Linked DNA regions of Homo sapiens. The protein of the gene in region 1 interacts with the protein of each later gene in a biochemical or structural test. Each region holds a gene or a part of one and is shown in the gene's direction. Other genes may lie near its edges.

Region 1 (7,767 bases):
TGGGGAAAGATCAGAAAGCTGTGCTTTTGGAGTATAGGGAAGGAACTGAGGCTTTGCTCAGAGAAGAGAGGGGCAGTGAGTAGCCTCCTGGGTGGCTTGCAGAAAAGAGGTGAGACTTTTCCCTGAGGGTCTAGGTGGCAGCACTAGCACGAGGGTGGCAGCTTTAGGGTGCTGGCTTCGCTATGTCAAAGTCAAGGATACCCAAGGAATGGAGCTGTCTGAGAACAGAGTCGAAGGCTCTGGAGTGGCTGGTAATGAGCTTCCTGCCACTGAAGGTGTTCAAGCAGGACACCACCAGCAGGTAGTCCCAACCTCCTGGCAGGTGTTTGTCCAAGATATTGGGACTTGAGTGGGAGCCCTGAGCTGGCTCTTCCATGGTTGAATTCTTCTGCTTTCCTGGACCACTTTGGTGCTTGACTGTCCCCTTTTGTGGGTGGGCTTTCATCTTCCATGTATGGTCAAAATTCTTTCCTTGGACCCAGAGCTTCTGGATAGCATTATACATCCCCAGCCTCCAACCAGGCCCAGACCTGTCTCTTTCCCTTGTAACTTATGCTTGGGCCACCCAAGAAACAGAACTCCTCCTCTAGCCCAAGCCCAGATCTGCCAGCTCCAGATAGCTCTTTTAGAACAGCAAGTCCTTCAGGACCTAGTATTCCCTTTGTAGCCCGCTGTGCTCCCCAGTCACCTCCCAGTATCACAGTTTCTTGACCAGCTGAGACTTGCAGAAGTAGATCCTATTTCTGCTCAAACTTGAAAGTTGTGAAGCACAGCTCTTGGATTCAGAATGACACCATAGGAGCAGGGCATGGTGGGTGAATCCATGGACCTGCCTGGTGTGTGGCCTACATCCCGGTAATGTGGCCACTGACTCAGGAGTATGGGTCCTTTGGAAAAAGGGATGTGGCTGGGTTAGAAAGGCAGACAGGTGACCAATAGACTGGCAGGGCTCTGCTCTGAGTTTCCACTCCCTTTCTCCCTTGCTAGGTGGAGGGGAATGTGGGCTGCTGGAAATCTCCCATAAACAGTTGATATTAATCTCAGGTGCTTGCACGCCTGGAACATGCCTTTTAAGAAAGACACGTGTTCAATTTCTCTAGGTGTCAGGGGAGTTGGGCCACTGTGCTCCAGCAAGTGGTCCCCACTCTGACCTGTCTGGTGAAAGATTGCATTCGAATCTTGGGAACATTTCTGTCTTCTCCAAACCCTTGGTACTGGAAGGTGTCTGCTCGCCTGTAAAGGGTTTCTAAAGCTTTACTTTCTGTTCAAAAAACAAAACAAAACAAAAAACTTTGCCTATTCCTGCCTCTTATTGATCAGCAAGGGGCACACGGGTGAGTTTCCTCCTTTCTAAGACTCCAGCTGGTAGCAAAGGAGATGAGGAGGTTGGGGGGTGACCCCTGGTTGGCTGGATGCTGAGCTTGGTCATGATATCTCCAGGACTCCATGAAGCGACAGGCATTTTTCCTTTTCAACCAGGACATTCTTATCAAGAGGTGAGACACTGTAAATGCTCTGGACTCTTACTGAGGGGAGGGTGTCTACGCTGGAGACTTTCTTCTGCTCCCACATTTAAATTTGGCCTACTGCAGAGGTTAAGAACTAGCAAACTCTGAGTGTGCACTATTATTGACCCTGCACTATGATTTCTGTGAGCAGTGCATGAGCAGGTCATTCTCATCTTCTTAAGCTTAGAATGAAACTTCAAATGTCTTTTTCTGACAAGGCCCCTGCCTCTGAGATACCCAGTTTATTTCACCCTAACTTCACTGTAACTGAATAACATTATGAGGACCCATCCCCATCATTCCCCACCTTTTTTTTTTTTTTCTCCCTCAACAGTCCCTTTGGCCCAGATCCATGTAGAATCAGAGAATCTTCAAGCTGGGAGGGATGACTATGGGGCTGCGATGTGCTTATGAATCACCTGGGAGCTTGTTCTGATGGACATTCTGGTTTGGGAGGTCTGTGATGGGGCCTCAGATGCTGCACTTCTTGCAAGCTTCCAGGTGATATGGATGCTACTGGACAGAGGGCCACACTTTGGGTTTTGAGGATCTGGTCTTAACGTGGTCATTTTACAGATGGGAAAGCGGAGTCCCAGAAAGCTTGTCATTTCCCTGTGGTTAGAAATGAAATTCTGCTCTTCCCCACTCTAGTCTATCACCTGCTTTTTTTTTTTAAACCTTTAAGTTCAGGGGTACGTGTGTAGGATGTGCAGCTTTGTTATACAGGTAGACATGTGTCATGGGGTTTGTCGTACAGATTATTTCATCACCCAGGTATTAAGCCTGGTATCCATGAGTTATTTTTCCTGATCCTCTCCCTCCTCCCACCTTCTACCCTCTGGTAGACCCTCATGTGCATTGTCCCCTCTATGTGTCCATGCGTCACCTGCTTTTGAAAGGGCTTCCCTCTTTTTCAGCTGTCGCTTCCTGCTCAGGCCCAGAGTGTGAGCATAAACGTAGCACCCCATCTTAATCCCATTTTACTGTCAGGATGAAAGACTTCTTGCCCATCAGGGCCCCTTGCTCCACAATCTGCATTTTTACCAAATCCAGAGGGGTTTTTAAAGGTTTTTTGTTGTTGTTGTTTTTGTTGTTCTAACTTATGGATGTCTCTTCTTCTCTGCTTGACATGTTAAAAATCCTCTCTCTCTCTCTTTCTTTCTCTCTCTCTCTCTCTCTCAAAAAAGTGGGCTGGGCATCTTTTGGACACAACCATTTCAGTTCCAGGCTGGAGCACTGATGCTGGGCTGAATCCACTTGGCGTTCCCTGCCCAGGAGTGGTCTGAGAGAGGCTGTGTTTCTCTGCTGCCACCTGCCACCTCCCAAGAGAGGCCAAGTGTTAGGATCTGACTACACCTCAGTTTCCTGACTCTCAGATATTCTAAAGCCAATCCCAGAATGGCACTTGAAGTGACAGGGAAATTCCCAGTGGCCTAAGGACAGCCAGGATTGGCCTAGGGCCAGTAGCAAGTGGTTTGAGAGTCCAAGGAGGTCTTCACACTCTGTCCCCGCCTGCTGGTGGGAGGGCAAAATGCCAGTCTGGAGACAAGGCCATAATGGCGACGGGGGTAAAAATCTCCCTGGGGCCAAGGGAAGGTGGAACGTGACGGGAAGTCGGGAAAACTGCCTTGTATAGGCATGTTCTTTTCTTCCATTTTTTTCGTCCAAGTTTTTACTCCAAGCGACAGTGCCACCCGAAGGCGACCGGCCTGTTTGTGGTTGCGCCTGGGGCAGGCGGTGACACCGGCATACCCCTTCCCCCATCTTGCCTGCAAGTTGCATGACCTGCATCGGAATCCACAGGGGGGCGGGGGAGACTCCTTTCAGATACTGGATGCAGTTGAATTGAATTCAATGTATTTTGCTTCCTCGCCTGCCCTCCTCCAAGCTCGGGAAGGAGAACCCTGCTTTCTTCTGCGTGTGAATGCTGTAGTGTGTCTGCCTGCTCGGACTCCCCTAACCCTTTCTTCTCCTTTCCCACAGCGAATGCTCGTTTTTTTTTTTTTCAGCAAACAGCTCACACTTGGCATCTTTATGTTTTATTAAGAAAAAAATCCCTACCAGCGCAAAAGCGGGGCCCCCCCCACACACACTTCTTTCCCGGATGAGATCTGAGCTCTCGTCGAAAGCTGCACCTGCTTTGCGTCCCTACCAGGAAGGGGTGCTTGTGTGGGAGGGAAGGAGGAGGTTCTGCGCCCCCGAATCCGGAGAAAGCAGCCCGCCCGCCCCCTCACCCGGCAGCCAGCTCAGCTCACCCGAGAGCTGAGCCCGAGAAGCCGGCCTCTGACGGTGCTGGCGTGGCGCTTGCCAAAATATGCCCCTTGCATCTCAATTTCCCCCGGCCATTTCTCTTGCACGCACAGCTCGCCCGGGGCCACCTCGGCTCTCCAGCGCAGCCCTTTCGACCCCTGTTTCTTCCTTCCCCGATCCATGCCTGCTCAAGGCCGAATGCAAAACCCACCTCCAAGAAAGCGCAGCGGGCACGGGGGGCACCTAGCGTGCCATGTCCCGCAGTCCCCTCCCAGCCAAGACCAGAGCCCCAGACTCTAGATTACGGAAATGAGTGTCATTCAGACCAAGGACTGCGCGTCTGCGGTCCCGGTCCCCGGCTCTGGGTGCTTCTCTGGGGTGTCTGTGCGCTCCGGCACCCCCCGTCGCCGTCCGTGAGCCTGCGCCCCCCACCCACCCAGGCTTGGGAGCGCCCCCCACCCAAGGCTTGGGAGCACTCCCCAATCACCTCCGCCACGTTCATTTCACTTCCTACCGCGGTCCGGATTGCAGCAAAACCGGGTAGCGCGAGGGCCAAAAAGTGGAAAGGAGAGCGCCTTTCCGTGTCGTGCAGCCAGCTCGCCAACTCTCCCTCCCCAGCCCCGACCCTCGCAATCTCAAATGCAACTTTTTCCCTTCGGTCTCGGTTTCCCCCGGGCTGCGGCTAGCGGGCGCCGCGCTGCGAGGCGTGGAGCGGGCGGGCTGCCGCGAGGCTGCGGGTGGCGGTGCCGGCTACAGCCGCGAGCCGGCGAGTGGGTGGGTGGGTGGGTGGGGAGGAGGGAGAGGACAGGCGGGGAGAGAGACGGGTGTGGGGAGGGGAGGGAGGGGGAGATTCCGCTCTCCTGCCGCTCCCAGCCCGGGCGGGGGGCGGGGGGAGGAGGCCGCGACGAGGGAGGGGAGGAGGGAGGGAGGAAGGGAGGGAGGGAGCCGAGGAAGACGCTCCGATAACCCGTGCGTTTCGTAAGGCTCGGAGCACTTGTACATTTCTGCAGCCGCGCGGCGAGCCATTCGCGGCGGCTGCTGCAGCTCCTACTGCATCTTCCTTCTCTTCCTTTCCTCGGGCTCCGGGTGTGTGTATGTGTGAGAGTGAGTGTGTGTGTTTTGCAGGTGCGTGGTGTGTCCGTTTTAATTCTGCCCAGTAGGTGGGACTTGGTGACTTTAGCACCATTTTTTCCTTTTCCTTTTTTTTTTTTGCCTCCCCACCGTCTGTTGCAACCCTGCAAAGTCTCGGAGTCGGAGAGCGCGCCTCGCTTCCAGAGCCCCCGGACCCGGCGAGTCAGCGATCGCCGAGCCGGCCACCATGCCCGGCAGACCGCGCCACTAGGCGCTCCTCGCGGCTCCCACCCGGCGGCGGCGGCGGCGGCGGCGGCGTCCGCGATGGTTTCAGACGCTGAAGGATTTTGCATCTGATCGCTCGGCGTTTCAAAGGCAGAGGCCCCCCCTCCCCCTTCCCCCCTCCCTCGCCGTCTTTGTTTCCTTCCCCCCCTGCTCTCCCCACTCCCCCCACCCCACCCCCCTCTCCTCTCCTCCTCCTCTTTTTTAGAAGCAGCGATCGGAGATGGATGTCTCTCTTTGCCCAGCCAAGTGTAGTTTCTGGCGGATTTTCTTGCTGGGAAGCGTCTGGCTGGACTATGTGGGCTCCGTGCTGGCTTGCCCTGCAAATTGTGTCTGCAGCAAGACTGAGATCAATTGCCGGCGGCCGGACGATGGGAACCTCTTCCCCCTCCTGGAAGGGCAGGATTCAGGGAACAGCAATGGGAACGCCAGTATCAACATCACGGACATCTCAAGGAATATCACTTCCATGTAAGTCAGGCGGCCGCTCCCCAGCCTGCCTCCCCCGCGCTCTGCGTCTCCCTCCTGCCCACCCGCGGCCGGGAGCCGGCCCTCCGCCCGCCCCAGCTCGCCGCTGCCCGCCGCCCGCTGGGCGCGCGTCAGGCTCGCTCTGGCTCGGGAGATGCTCTCCGGCTGCGCATTCCAGGTGACTCCGGCCCTGGCGAGGCGCGATCCGGCTATGCGTGTGTGTGCCTCTCCCCGGAGAGGACCCCGGCCGCCGAGGGCACGCGGGGCCCAGCTACCGCCCGCCTCCCAACCAGTTGCTGGCTCGTTTCGATGGTGCAAATTGTTTTTTTTTGCTCCCCACTAAATAGCAACAGTTTGGCCACGCTCAAGTGGAATAAAGTAGACGAGGTTCGATTCTTTGGCAGAGGCGGCAGCGGCGGTGGCAGCGGCGGCAGCGCTTAGCCGGCAGGGAAGGTGACAGATAGGGACTGCTCGCGATCCAGCCGAGGTGTTTAACTATTTCCATTTGGAAACAGCAAAACATGCTGACAAGTAAACAAGTTGCGAGCTGGCTGCTCGCGGGGAGACTTTGGACGTGTGGAGGCCGTCATGGACGCCTACCTCTTCCCTTCCCCTCCTGCAGCCCGCCCTCTCCAGCCCCATTTTGGGCATTTCCGAGACACCCCTTTGCCACCCTCATCTGCATCTGGGCGCCTACAGATCCCTTCCCAGTTTGGGCTTTGATAACTGCTCGGAACTATTCCGAGTCAGGATGGCGCAGGGAGAGGAGAGGGCGTGTGTTTTGAGGAGAGGGGTTTCTTGTGTGATCGTGCGGATCGGTTCATTTGGAACATTCAACTCTGGCTGGCTTTTGCTTGGTTCTGCCCCCTCCGAGGGAGACCAGTGGTGGCCTGCTCTTTTCTCCTTGCTATTTTTCTTTGGTGGGGATGGCAGCAGACGCAAAGGAGAGGACAGATCGAGGGCTGGGGACTGGAGAGTCTGCTCCTCTTTTCTTTCGTTGACCTCGGCCAGGTGACCCCTTCCTAACCTACCACCCTGGAGAAGGGTGTGGACCATACTGGAATTGCTCAGAGGATAATTCTCACCTCTTTTCCCCCAAGGCTTCCAGCCCTTGGGGACCCTCAGCAATGGGTAGGCAGCTGAGAAGGGTTTGTGCTGAGGTCCTGGCCAAGGTCTGGAGGAAGGCATTTTGGGTGGCTCTTTACCCCTTCGACGGACTTAAGGGGGCCGGACCTGCCTTTGGTGCTGCTCTGGGAGCACCTCCCCTTGCTTCAGCCCAGGGCCATGGGGCTGCAAAGCCTGGAGGAATTGCAGTCCTGCTCTTTGGAAAGCCCACCAGCCCTCTCGGCTTAATGGAGCTTCTGCTTGCGCTCTCGCAGCTGACAGTTTGAGGGAAATGGATAGCCCAGGAGATGTCTCTGACTCCTGGCCCAGGAGACAAGCTTGACCCATATCTCAGCTCTGCTGTTCACCCCCTTACCCTCTTCAACCCGGCCAGAGATGACAAGATAAACAGCCAAGGGGCGGGGGTCAGCAGGGAGGGCAGGAGGAACAGGACAGACCCAACTGTGCCTCTCCCCCACTGCAGGCCACAGGCTTCCAGCATTCCCAAGGATGCAGGGAGAAGGGTTCAGAGTGAGACTGTTAGGGAAACTCAGACTTGGAAGTGCATTGCTGGGGCTGTATGTGTATGTGTGTAGGGGGTGGATGTGGGTAGTAGGGTGCTGGTGAAGGTGGGAGCTGAGCAGCCAGTCTTGGTGCTCAGAAGCCTGACCTAGAGATTGCCAGGGGTGGGCCAAGGGTTGGAAGAAGGGGCCCCTGGTACCCAGCCTGGGTCTCTGGGAATGGGTGAGCTGCATCCAGTGTGCTGCTCCAAGGATGTGTCTGTCTGTAGAAAGCCAGTGGGAGGCAGGGATGGTCACAATCACGTAGGCTCTTTATAGCCACACAGAGGTGTTGCTCCTCTGAAAATGATGCTCAGGGAAGCAGTTTCATAGGGCAGAGTTGGGTTAGCCTTTCTAGGCTGCCAGAAAGGTCTGTGATGGGAGGGGACTGGGGTGGCCTCTTGCCCTCTTTGGTACTGGAGGGCCTCAGGAGGGCGTCTGGGAGGATAGTGAGCAGGGAGTGGATCTGGAGCCCCTCTGTGTGTGTCCCCATTCTTGTTTCAGGACTTGGATTCTGAGAGGCC
Region 2 (7,025 bases), on another chromosome or scaffold:
ACATATTCCTAATTTTATGGACTCAAAACTATGAACTTTTCCAAATAACATATTTTTTAACTCCAAGGACACGATGAGTTTTTGTGATTTATGTCCAAAACTAAATTTCAAAATATAAATAATTATAATTGAACATGCATAGATATTTGATTTATTATGGACAGTACTCATGCTTTCAAAAATCAAAGTCTGTGATATTCTAATGGAGAAAAAAAGGCCTGGATATGAGGCCGATTGCATCAGAGATAATTATTGACATGAAACATAATTTATGATGAAATGTTCTAATGTGCCCTTTGCTCTTCACAGATAAGTGCAATTTTGAATGAGGGCAGTAAGGCATTTCTTGTCCTCTAGGTAGCAAGTCAGCCCTTTCAGAGGGGCTTCCAGGTTTAAGAGGTCAAAAAGGCCCTTGCCCTGTGTCTCACTGGGGAAGCTAGCAACCTGTTGAGTACAGTCCCTTACCCACTGCTTGGGAAAGAAGTAAAATTTAGTAAGCAAGGCATATATAGCAAAATATCCAGTCAGTTTTTGGTTTGCAGCCAAACTAAGAACTCAATCACTGAAAGCATTAATAATCTAACACTTTGTGTATTGACCCTAAATTTATCAGAAATAGATGCAGCTTTGTGGAGTGATCATCATCATCATCACCATCATCACAGTCATTGTCATCAATATCACTGTACAAATTTTAGACTGCTATACCTTGACTTATTCTAGACACAGACCTCACATCATTTTTTTTCAAGGAATTCATTCAAATACATCAACATGACTATTCACAGACACATTGTATGCAGACAAAATAGTGTCTTCTACAGACATTTTACATTTCTTACTCAAACTCAGGTGAGAGATTGGTGTTGATATGTGTGGGTTCTGAAGGAGTGTCTCAGGATAGGGTGGTGTGTGTGTGTGTGTGTGTGTGTGTGTATTCAGGTACACACTCAAGTAATCAAATTATCTTGGAGTGCCCACAGTTTAAGAGGCAGTGTACACTGGTGTTTGTGTGTGTATTACAGAGTCATATTGTGTTAAGCCTGAATTAGTTATAATAAAGAACCCCTGCATCATTGCTACTGAGAGTACATCGGGCCAGTCATTGTCACTTTGCACCAACTTCGCTGTAGGGGAAGCAGGGAAATGTGGAGGGACAGATTGCGAGTTTTGAAGAGCACTAACTTTATGAGCTGAGCACCTATTGAGAATTTTGCTTTTTCATATTTTTGTTTTAACATCTTATTGTGGATTCACCTACCTCTTGCCCTTTCTCCCTTCTTGATTAAAACCTTAAGACACCTCCATTCCTGGCTTAAGGATAATTGATCTCCTTTCTGTAAACACTGTGAGTTTTCCTTTCCTCTCTCAACAGCTTTCCTCGGAGTATTTGTTCATGAGAGATATTTATGAAAATTCACCCTTTTATAGAAGCTCAATGATTAAAATAAATAGAAATAGCTGGACACGGTGGCTCACGCCTGTAATCCTAGCATTTTGGGAGGCTGAGGCAACATGGTGAAACCCCATCTCTACTAAAAATTACAGAAAGTCAGCGGGGTCTGGTGATGTGTGCCTATAGTCCCAGCTACTCAGGAGGCTGAGGTGCGAGAATTGCTTGAACTCGGAAGGTGGAAGTTGCTGTGAGCTGAGATCATGCCTCTGCACTCTAGCCTGGGTGACAAAGCGAAACTCTGTCTCAAAATAACTAACTAAATAAAATAAAATAAAATAAAATAAAATAAAATAAATAGAAATGTGCATATGTGCATTTGTATATTTTGTCCTTTAGACCATTTTACAATTTCTTTCATCTCCAAGTCTGTAAAAACTAGTTTGTAAAGAGAGATTATATCTTGCATGGCATGCATTACCAATTTCCCAAGAATTAGATGCAATAAATATATTTAAGATAAAACATATAAATAACTTAGTCATTCTGACTATTTAAAAATTCTAAAGGAATTTCAGGATCATTACTTTGTATATGAATTTCCAATATATGGATTTATGGTGCAGAAGTTATAATGAGTGTGTTTCAGTCTTTACTTGTCTAGAATATTGTGAATCCTGGACATTGTTTTCTGAAATGGATCTGTGGTATCTATGTTTATTTATCATTTGTATATTTATCATTTCTCATTAAATACTAATTTAGCAGATGACAATTTCAATTATTTGAACTCTATTTGATTCTAGATTTTTATTCATGGTGACAATTATGCATATTCCTTACGCTGTGTGTAGATTTGCCACTTACTTCTGTATCTATACATATTCCTGCAAATAATGCTAGTTCTTAGAATTTTCCAGTAAGCAAAGATCTTATATATCTTCTACCCAATCCCTATATTTTGCATTATCTTCAACTGCATGTTCGTGTGTATGACATCTGATGTATGCTTAGAAACTCTATCTCTATTGGCAATTTTTTTCCTTTTAAAAACATCCCTCTGTCTGCATATGAACATGTCCAAAGTTCTTTGAATTTCAAAAATTAAGCCAAAGACAATGAAAATTAAGGTAATTTTTACAGTAAAAACCAAATACAGACATTGTGGCTGGATTTTGCTATTAAATTATTATGCCTATGTAAGACCTGGGAGAGGTGGGTAAATCAGAGAGAGTTATCAAGATTCACATCTCAGTTTTTATCTTGATAGATTTACAGATGACTGCTGGCAAGGTGAACTTTAAAAATGGCATTCCTTTTCTTAGAAAACAAAGATAATACTCAGTACTTAAAGAGATCTTTCAAATGACTGAAATTAATAGATAGTGAGCAGGGAAGTGCTACAGTGGTCAAATATCTTTCTACGATCTACATTCCCAGTTTCCTTAAATGTCTTTCAAACACGCACAGTAATGGTGAATATTTTGGATCAGTATAAAATAGAATACGGAATAAAAAATTAGTTTAGGCTGGGTGCGGTGGCTCACACCTGTAATCTCAACATTTTGGGAGGCCGAGGCTGGCGGATCACCTGAGGTCAGGAGTTTGAGAGCAGCCTGGCCAACATTGTGAAACCTCGTCTCTACTAAAAATACAAAAATTAGCGGGGTGCAGAGGCCAGCGCCTGTAATTCCAGCTACTCAGGAGGCTGAGGCAGGAGAATCGCTTGAACTCGAGAGGTGGAGGTTGCAGTGCACTGAGATCGTGCCACTGCACTCCAGTCTGGGCAACAAGAGCGAAACTCCATCTAAAAAAAAATAGTTTACTATGAAGCATATATATTTGACATAAATGTCATCTTTTCAAAGTATTTTTATTAGTTAGCATTGCCCTCTTTGGATCATAAACCATGTAGAAACTGTTGAGTAGGACAATTAAGTATTTGTATCTTTGGACTGTTTCTATTTACATCAATTTTAGAAACTGTAGAAGATAAAAGGTATGCAATACAAACAAAATTGAAATTATCTGTAGTCCCACCATTTAAAGATAATCTCTAGATTCACATATTTTGAAATGCAGTGCTGGTTTTGAGGAAGACATAATTTCTATTAAATAAGATAAAATAATTAAAAGGGAGCATACTATGATTTCTTTAGCCTCGGTTTTATTACTTGTGCCTCACTTTAGTCACAGTATTTTCTGTTTTTCTTCAAGGTCTTGTAACTTTGTCCACAGAGTCCACAAATTCTAGATAGGGAACATTTTCATTAACTTTCTGCATAAATCCTCTTTAGATTTATTTTAAGATACAGAGCAGTATTATCCTCTAAGTAATTCATTTTTATATTGTTACACTATTACTCAATGAGAATATTGCACCTGTCAGTCAAAGTGGATAGAATAAGTAATGATATTTTGCTATAAGCAAGAGCAGAAATTAATAAAGAAAACTATTGTTTACATGGTACTTGCAATGATTAGTGATGGTTGTAACCTTTCAACATGTGCAAAATATTTTGTCTGCCATTTTCCTGAATTATTTGCAATAATTCTTGGTTAATTTTTATTTTTGGCTTAACAGTAAAATTACTGGGAACAAAGACATATTAATGCTTAGTTTGAGACTTCATAATGGTAACATAATCTCACTACATTTTGTACATATTGTGCATCTCACAACTTGTAAAGACTTATCACACATATTATATAAGTCTTATGGTAGGATTTCAAACATATATTCAATTTTTAACCCCCATTCTGTACATAAACTAGAATCCAAAAGAAGTAAGGCAAATCAGCTGGAGTTATTGAGACACAGCTTGGGTTTGTGTGTTTGTGTCTACAAACCTAGGTTTATAACTTCAAGTTCAGTGTAATAGCTGTTATAGAACAGCCACCACTTTGGAGTATATATAGACAAGTTCAACACAGTCATGTGTACCCTTCAAAGTCAAGATGCTTTCTTTGGTATCTTGGTTTAAAGCTGATACAATCATTCACTGTACTCAATGCTAAGTTATTTAGATTGCAGACAAAAATGCTACTTAGTGAAATAATTTATGTCACAATAAGGAAGTACTATGCAGATACTTGTCCAGGCCACACTGAATTGACACAATTTCATTTTCATTGATGCCAAACACAAATTCACTAACCTCTCCTTTCAAAAAAAAAAAAAAATAGAGCACCTTTCAAAATTTACATGACAGTGTCTGGGTAGAATTTTACAAGTTATTTAAATAGTTAAATATCTTTAGTTTAGCATTACCTTTATTTATGGAAGATGATATTTTATTTAACCTGGCTTTATAAAAGATTATGTTTAAATCAACTTAGTGAAAGGTGAGTTCATTTAAAGAAAACCTAAATACAAAAACTGTACAGATTAATGGGGATCTGACAAATCAAAAGGCAGTATGTGTTGACATAGTCATGCCTCACATAGTATGACAGTGTTAGCTAAATGCCCAGGCATTGACAGTACTCAACCACAGCACGATCTTAACTCAAGAGACTGGATTATTTTGTTTGTTTCTTATTTTTGTTGCTTGCTGCTTTAAAGGGGGCTTAAATCAAAATAGATGTATTTAAATTATGTTCCTTTATTAAAAAACTATTAATTTTTTAAGTTGCCTATATGCCACTCTCTTATTCAAATGTGTACATTTATACATAAAATGTATTACACGTTGATGTGGTTTGGCTGTGTCCCCACCGAAATCTCATTTGAATTGTAGCTCCCATAATCCCCACGTGTCATGGGAGGGACCCGGTGGGAGGTAACTGAATCATGGGAGTGGTTTCTCCCATGCTGTTCTCGAGATAGTGAGTTCTCACAAAATCTGATGATTTTATAAGGGGCTTCCCCCTTCACTGGGTACTCATTCTGTCTCCTGCCGCCCTGTGAAGAGGTGCCTTCCACCATGATTGTAAGTTCCCTGAGGCCTCCCTAGCCATGCAGAACTGTGAGTCAATTAAACCTCTTTCCTTTATAAATTACCCAGTCTCTGGTATGTTCTTACAGCAGCGTGAGAATGGACTAATACACATGTAGAAACGTGTGTAGTAATTTTTTCCTAACGATTTTTCCATTGTAAATATGGAATTGCTTTTTTCTGATTACTCACTACCCTTTGGCATGTTTATGTGTGTATGTATATGTGTGTACACACATATATACATATATAATGTGCTATATATTGAATATGTATGTATTTCCAAATGGCACATTACTACCCATACACATGGAATTGCTATCTTTGCTGAGTGGATAGCAGAATGCACTCCCCACCTCTGCACCAGAAGAAGATGTTCATAAAATGCTTTTGTAGAATACAAGGAAAGTTTTTAATTCTATAAACCATTTTATGTCTACATTGGTCTTTACTTGGAAAAATAGATGCAATATTTGTCTAAAATTGGAAAGTTAGTATTTTTTCCCCAAAACTATAAAAACTATAACTTTAACACCATGGCAACCAGTAAATTTTATATTTATTTTTGTTTACATAATTCTAGTAAATTTTCTCACATGCTATGCAAAAATAAGAGTAAAATTATACTTTTCACATATGTCTCCTTGCTTTGAAAAATATTCCTTTTTGTTTAAACTTACTAGCAAATAGGAATACATTTTCCAGAGTGTTTTAAAGACCGTAGGGTAGTTCTGTAGAAAGCATCCATGTCATTTTACTCTTGCTTTCATAGACTTCACCACATATTTGGAATCCTTAAGTTTTAGCTATATAAGTCTCCTAAACCAAAGTACACCTAGTACCAAGTCATGATACTGAATTTACCTAGAAGCTACCAATTTTATGTATAAGTATGAAATATACTATTCTAGACATTTAAAACTGGACAATTATTTAGCACTGTGAAGTCCACTCAACACATTCCGTTGTTTTCTGATATTTTGAATAATTATCTATATTACCTATCCCTTTATTAAAAAACAATCACTGTCAACCACGACTGCATATAGGAGTGACCTGCAGAACTTGATCCTTCCGCCTGGGCGTTCCTCACTGAATTGGCCTGCCTGGAGTTGAGTGTAGGTTTGCTTTAGAGTTCCCTCAAGTGCTTTTAATGTGACACCAGAGTTGATAATTGTTGCCATCAAATGATACTTTTTTAGGAAACAGAGAAAATATGTAACATGCTAGACTCCTCTAAACTGCGAATTACACTGTTGTTAGTGCGAAGACCTCTGAAATATAAAGTTAATTATCCATTAAATCCTTTATGTAACACTAATTTCCTGACAGTCCATAATGCTTTATAATGTGAACACAGAAGGAATACAACAAAAAATTTCTTCGATGTACAGAAATTGACTTCATAAACAATGTAACGAACGTGAGTAAATCCTTTCTGAGGACTTTCCAGGCTCTCTTGATACATGACTGATGCTTCTACCAGCAATGTGGATGCTCTTGAAAGATTTCAATTGTCTAATTTGTGTATTCTCATCTAAGTAATTAAGATACCACGGCTATTTAAATTGTACTTAATTTAAGACTCACTGAGTTCTGAACAATGCAATCATGATTTTCCCAATGGGAGATTCAGTGCATGAGGCTATATTTTTAAAAAACCAGTAGCTCAGAGTCAGTTTTGTATTCTTCAT
Region 3 (7,025 bases), on another chromosome or scaffold:
GCTCACCAGTAAGTGAAATTTTAATTAATATTTTGTCTTGTTTAAGAAGCTGACCTTGGGGCTCTGGAATTATGGAGAACTTCAGACTTGGGAAAAAGCTTCAAAACTATTGGTGTGAAAATCTACTCATTTGGTCTTGGGGGACGTTTCCTTTTTGCCTCTGTGATGGCTGATAAGGTAGGTATTGCCCTCTCCCCTTTGGGGTCTGATATTTCTGCAAATATCTCTCGTATAGATTCTCTTTATTACTTGGCATTGACAGAGTTTCTTGTCTTTTTGTTATATTTAGTACCACTGTGAGTGTTAGGGGTGATTCTTTTTGCAAAGGCTGATTGACTGATAGGCTACTCTGCACTTTGGCCTTCTGTCACCATGTGAATTCTGTTATCTTTTTTGGGATTTTTTTTTTTTTTGAAACAAAGTCTCTCTCTGTTGCCTAGGCTGGAGTGCAGTGACGCAATCTCGGCTCACTGCACCCTCCGCCTCCCAGATTAAAGCAATTCACCTGCCTCAACCTCCCAAGTAAGTGGGACTATAGGTGTGCACCACCACACCCGGATAATTTTTGTATTTTTAGTAGAGATGGGGTTTTGCCATGTTGGCCGGGCTGGTCTTGAACTCCTGAGCTCAGGTGATCCCCCCGCCTCAGCCTCCCAAAGTGCTGGGATTATAGGCGTGAGCCACCGCGCCCGGCCAGGATATTTTGATCCAGTGTTTGGGCATTACTCAGACAATGGACATCTGTAGAAAGCAATCTCTTGCTCATTATCCAAGAATAAAAATACAATTAGATAACATTAATTGAGTGCCTACTATATGCTAGGTACTATTCTAAGTCCCAGGAATATGGCAGTGAACAAAACAGATGAATTTCCTGCTCTCAGAACTTATGTTTAAGGGGGAAAATAAATACTCAAAAAATAAATATGAAGGCTGGGGGTAGTGGCTCACACTTGTAATCTCAGGACTTTGGGAGGCTGAGGCGGGTGGATCCCTTGAGCCCAGGAATTCAAGACCAGCCTGGGCAACATGACAAAACCCTGTCTCTACAAAAAATAAGAAAATTAGCCAGGCATGGTGGCATGTGCCTGTAGTCTCAGCTACTTGGGAGGCTGAGGTGGGAGGATCATCTGAGCCTGGGGAGGTTGAGGCTGCAGTGAGCTGTGATCATGCCACTGCATTCCAGCCTGGGTAACAGCACAAGACCCTGTCTCATAAATAAATATAAATGTGAGTGTGTGTGTATCAGGTAATAATTAAAGCCGCGAAGAAATCTAAAACAGTAAGAAAACAAAGTGTCAGGAGTCAGTGCTCTTTTAGACAGACTGTTTAGGATGGGCTCTCTGAGACCTAAGTGAAACAAGAACTTGACCATGTGGCCATCTGGGAGGAGAGTAGGATGAGGCACAGCCAGTGCAGAGACCCTCAGACTGGAGCATGCCCGATCAATCCAAGCAAAGGGGAGAAGGGCAGTATGGGGGGAGCACAGAGAATAATAGTCCAAAGTGGGGCCAGAGGGGGCCTGGCCAGACCTTATGTGGCCTTTGTAGATCACAATTAGGATGTGGGCCTTACTCTTCTTGTGTTGGGAGCTGTGAGAGGGTTGTGAGCAGGGGAATGCTGAGATTTGGCTTCTCTTTTGAAGAATAGGTGTGCGCAGAACAGCCTGACAGGGGCACGCGCAGAAGCAGCGGGAGCGCCGGGAGCTCTCTCAGGAGTCCAAGCTGGGGAGGTGGTAGCTTGGCCAGGCTCTTGGCAGTGGGTAAGGGGGCAGGTGGTGAGACTGTGGATACATTTTTAAACATATTACTAATAGGACTTGCTGATGGATTTGATGTGGGTTGTGAGAGAATGAGTGGAATCAAGGGTACCTTTAAGAGTCTGTATCCTGAGCGCCTGAATGGTGGTGCCATTTTCTAGGATGGCAAAGACTGCAGGAGGAGCAGGTTGTGGGAGAAAAATCAAGAATTCTGTTTTGGGCCGAGCATGGTGGCTCACGCCTTAATCCCAGCCCTTTAGGAGGCTAAGACGAGCAAATCACTTGAGGTCAGGAGTTTGAGAGCAGCCTGGCCAACATGGCGAAACCCTGTCTCTACTAAAAGATACAAAAAATTAGCCAAGCGTGGTGGCGCAGGCCTGTAATCCCAGCTACTCGGGAGGCTGATGCACAAGAATCAACTGGACTGTGGAGACGGAGGTTGCAGTGAGCCAAGATCATGCCACTGCACTCCAGCCTGGGAAACAGAGTGAGACTCTGTCTCAAAAAAAATAAAAAAAGAATTCAGTTCTGCATATGAGACACCTATTAGATATCTGAATGGAGATGTCAAGTGAGCATTTGGGTATATGAATCTCCCTAATTGCTATGGTATTTGAAGCCATGTGACCAGATGATACCTTCTGGAGGAGTAAGTAGGTAGCAAAGAGGTGGGAGGACTGAGCAAGCCCTGAAGCACCCACAACTGAAAGGTTGGAAAGAGAAGAATCCAGCAAAGAAGACTGAGAGGGAGGGATCCGGGAGGAAGAGGGAAATCAGGACCATTGAGTTAGGTGCATTCTGAGAATTATCCACTGGAGTTGGCGACGTGGAGGTTGTTGGTGACCTTGACAAAAGCACTTCATTGGAAGTTAAAAGGCCGATTGGAGTGACTTCAGTGAGAACTAGAGATGAAGAAGTAGGCAGTAAATACAGATAACTCTCCAAAGCCATTTTGTAATATCCTCCCAATAACCCTGTGAGCTAATAGTATTACCTCAGTTTTATAGGTGAGGAAATTGAGTAACTTACCTAGGGTCAACCAGTAGTGGAATCCTGCTGGAAATCAGACTCAAATTCCAGAGGTAGCTTCCTATGCTATACTGCATATATGGTATAATGCTGTCTACAGAATTAAAATTTTGCGATGTACTTTTGAACTCTGGTTTCTACCTACAGTAATGAGAATAAGATTCAAAGTAATGAGACATGTTGGTATAAGTTGAATAAGTTAAATGTACTTATCACTGAACTTTAAAGAGTATTTAATCTAAGGAAACACCGACATTAATTCTCATGCTCAGGCTAACTGTATCTAGTAGCGATGTTAAGCTATTTATCAGAGAGTTAAGTTTTAATTGCTTTCTTAACAGACTCTTTTCGTCAGCCAAATACTCCCTAATCAGTTTCCTTATAGTAATTTCCGACTCTCCTTGGCCTCTTTCCAGCCCATGCCTGTTCCCTTCATCCTGGCTATTCTGAGAGACTTCCTTAGAGAGAAGGCGTGTTACATCTTGACTTCCCTTGTGATCTCCCAAACATGGGTTTCATCTCTATTTTCTAGACCCTTAAGTATATAATTCTTTAAATTATGCAAGCACTGTATGAAAGGGACCAAACTTTTATGCAGTAGTCATCATTTTAAGAATTACCTGAGTGTATGCAAATGGCTATAAAGCCAACCTAATGTTCTCATCAAATCCTTAGCTCTACTGAAGGAGGTGGACTATCAGAGACCAAGACTATACTATCTTACAGGGCCGCATCAGAATGAAGAATTCAAAGAGAAAGCCAAGATAGCCTTACTTAGAATAGAATGGATTGTTCCTTTACCTAGAACTTTGCTAGGGGCTAGAAATTGCTTTGGTAATTGGTACTATGACCTTTCATTCATAGCAATCGTACCCAGTAGAGAAATGGATAATAGTAGTTATTTAAAACATTCTTGTTCATGTCCCTGCCCATGGCATCTTGGCAGAAAATTAGAAAGATAAATATTGACATCTGTTCTAGGATACAACAAGAAGGATCCACGTTTCAACAGATCAAGGGGACACATGGAGCATGGCCCAGCTCCCCTCCGTGGGACAGGAACAGTTCTATTCTATTCTGGCAGCAAATGATGACATGGTATTCATGCATGTAGATGAACCTGGAGGTAAGAGCTTTTTAGTGGCTTACCCTTAAAAGCATAGAGATGTAAGCTTTGAGCAGCTTTTATTTTTACATGTCGAGTTTTCCTCTTACCCCTAGAAATTTATTAGTGCCCTACTGATTTTTCTGTCCTAGAGATCATCTGTAGCCCCTGTTAAAAATGCCACTTGTTTTGGTAGCTTGTGTGTATGTTCAGGTGTTCTAGAGCAGAGCTGCTCAAAGAATGGTCAGCAGACTGGTACTGATTTGCAAACTATCTGTTACCAGATAAGTACAGAAATTGAGAGCAAGAGTTTGGAAACTCTTCTAGCCTTTTGACAAAGCAATTTTATGTCTGTTGGATCTAATGACAAAAAATTAGGGGTTTATGGCTGGGCGCAGTGGCTCACACCTGTAATCCTGGCACTTTGGGAGGCTGAGGCGGGCAGATCACGAGGTCAGGAGATCGAGACCGTCATGGCTAACACAGTGAAACCCCATCTCTACTACAAAAAATACAAAAAATTAGCTGGCCGTGGTGGCGAGCACCTATAGTCCCAGCTACTCAGGAGGCTGAGGCAGGAGAATGGCATGAACCCGGGAGGTGGAGCTTGCAGTGAGCTGAGATCGTGCCACTGCACTCCAGCCTGGGCAACAGAGCGAGACTCCATCTCAAAAAAAAAAAACTTAGGGGCATATATTTTGTTTACCTTTTCATTTTCTAATGATTAGTTTTTATTATGTTTTACAATAGCATCAGTTTGTGACATATTGGAAATCTTACAAATTGATCCTTCACTACAGATAGTTTGAGAAGCATTGTTCTAGAGTGTAAAGATTTAAAAATATGTAAACTAAACATAGGGCCTCTCCCACCAAAATATATCTGGGAAGAGTTTTTCTGTAGCATCTGATTAATTTATTCAACAAACTCAGCATCTGCCATATTCCAGGCACTAAGCTGGGTACTAGAATTAAAGATGGGCATAAAGATCTTGAGTATCAAACCTTGATTAATTCTCAGGTCTGAGTCTTCATCATGAAGAGACACAATTGGCTACTGTGTTTGGTCAGGCAGGTAATCGTGTGTGGTTAGACTATTGTTTTTCTCTTTGGTTCCACCCAAGACTTAGTATTTTTGTTTGTTTGCCTATTTCAGACACTGGGTTTGGCACAATCTTTACCTCAGATGATCGAGGCATTGTCTATTCCAAGTCTTTGGACCGACATCTCTACACTACCACAGGCGGAGAGACGGACTTTACCAACGTGACCTCCCTCCGCGGCGTCTACATAACAAGCGTGCTCTCCGAAGGTGAGTCTCGGCATCGCAGTGGTGTACTGTGCCTTCAGCTGCATGTGGTAGGATTTGAGGCTTCGGGGAACCTGTCCCCTAGTAATGTTGCTTGCCAAGCCAACAAGCCTACCCATGTACATTTTTTTGTTTCCTTTTTTTTTTTTATTGTGGCAATATGTCTAACAAAATTTGCAGTTTTTAACATTGTATAGGGTACAATTCAGTAGCATTAAGCACAGTCACAATGTTGCACAACCATCACCCCTATTTCCAGAGCTTTTTCATCATCCCAAATAGAAATTGCACCAGGTGCACAAGCACTCCTCGTTCCCCACCCAGTCACCCAGCTCTGGTAACCAACATTCTATTTTATGTCTCAATGAATTTGCCTATTCTAGGTAGCTCATGTAAGCAGAATCATACACTATTGGTTGTTGTATGTCTGGCTTCTTTCATTTTGCATATTGTTTCAAAGTTCAGCCACATTGCAGCATGTTTTAGAATTTCACTTATTGCTTTTTAAGACTAGAATATATTCCTTTGTTTGAATATAGCACCTTTTTTTTCTTTTTCTTTCTTTTTTTTTTTTTTTTTTGAGATGGAATCGCTCTGTTGCCCAGACTGGAGTGCGGTGGCGTGATCTCAGCTCACTGCAACCTTGGTCTCCCAAGTTCAAGGGATTCTCCTGCCTCAGCCTCCTGAGTAGCTGGGTTTACAGGTGTGTGCCACCACACCCAGCTAATTTTTGTATTTTTAGTAGAGATGGGGTTTCACCATGTTGGCCAGGTTGGTCTCGAGCTCCTGACCTCAGGTGATCTGCCTGCCTTGGCCTCCCAAAGTGCTGGGATTCCAGGCGTGAGCCACCATGCCCAGCCTGTTTTTTATTCCTCCATTGATGGACACTTAGGCTGTTTCCATTTTCAGCTCTTATGAATACTGAATGCTGCCATGAACATTGTTATACATGTAACTGTTTAAGTCAATGCTTTCAGTTCCTTTGGGGATATATGTAGGAGTGAAATAGCAGGATCACATGATAATTCCATGTTTCTCTTTTGGAGGAAATACCAATGGGTTTTCCACATGGTTGTACCATTTTACATGCAATACAAAAGGATTCCAATTTCTCTACTTCATTGCAAACACATTATATTCTCCTATTTTTGTAACAGCACTCCTAATGGGAGTGAAATACTATCTCGTTTATAGCTTTGATTTGCATTTCTCTAATGACTAAAGATGTTGAACAACTTTTTATATGCTCGTTGGCCATGTGAATATCTTCGTTGAGGAAGCTTCTAATTGAGTCCTATGGATGGCAGTGATTTTTAAAGTTGTGTTCACTGATGCTCCTCTGGTGCTTATGACAATTTTTGCACATAGTAGATGTTCAGTAATACTTGCCAAATGAGCCTACAAATAAACGGCTGAACAGCCTTGCACTCAAAACCATACAGTGAACACACTTGAAAAACATTTAAGACTGAGCCTTAAGTATGATAGGCAGGAATGGGGAGGGAAGGGCATTTTCAGCTGAAGGAAGTACACATGCAAAGTATCAGAGTCGCTGGGCGCGGTGGCTCACACCTGTAATCCCAGCACTTTGGGAGGCTGAGGCAGGTGGATCATGAGGTCAGGAGATCGAGACCATCCTGGCTAACACGGCGAAACCCCGTCTCTACTAAAAATACAAAAAATTAGCTGGGCGTGGTGGTGGACACCTGTAGTCCCAGCTACTCAGGAGACTGAGGCAGGAGAATGGCGTGAACCCGGGAGGCTGAGCTTGCAGTGAGCCAAGACCATGCCACTGCACTCCAGCCTGGGCAACAGAGTGAGACT

The links.
Region 2: the proteins of NTRK3 (region 1) and DOK6 form a complex in vitro, tested with the Homo sapiens proteins (one study listed by BioGRID).
Region 3: the proteins of NTRK3 (region 1) and SORT1 form a complex in vitro, tested with the Homo sapiens proteins (one study listed by BioGRID and IntAct).

The regions. Positions count from the first base shown.
Region 1 is NC_000015.10:88,253,721-88,261,487, reverse strand, and holds the start of NTRK3 (NT-3 growth factor receptor isoform a precursor), read left to right. Parts: upstream 1-4,748; 5' UTR 4,749-4,844; intron 4,845-5,001; 5' UTR 5,002-5,204; exon of another isoform or gene 5,205-5,319; 5' UTR 5,320-5,334; coding exon 5,335-5,582; intron 5,583-7,767. UniProt on the Homo sapiens protein: Receptor tyrosine kinase involved in nervous system and probably heart development.
Region 2 is NC_000018.10:69,403,879-69,410,903, forward strand, and holds part of DOK6 (docking protein 6), read left to right. Parts: intron 1-7,025. UniProt on the Homo sapiens protein: DOK proteins are enzymatically inert adaptor or scaffolding proteins. They provide a docking platform for the assembly of multimolecular signaling complexes. DOK6 promotes Ret-mediated neurite growth. May have a role in brain development and/or maintenance.
Region 3 is NC_000001.11:109,338,903-109,345,927, reverse strand, and holds part of SORT1 (sortilin isoform 1 preproprotein), read left to right. Parts: intron 1-46; coding exon 47-177; intron 178-3,769; coding exon 3,770-3,914; intron 3,915-5,048; coding exon 5,049-5,204; intron 5,205-7,025.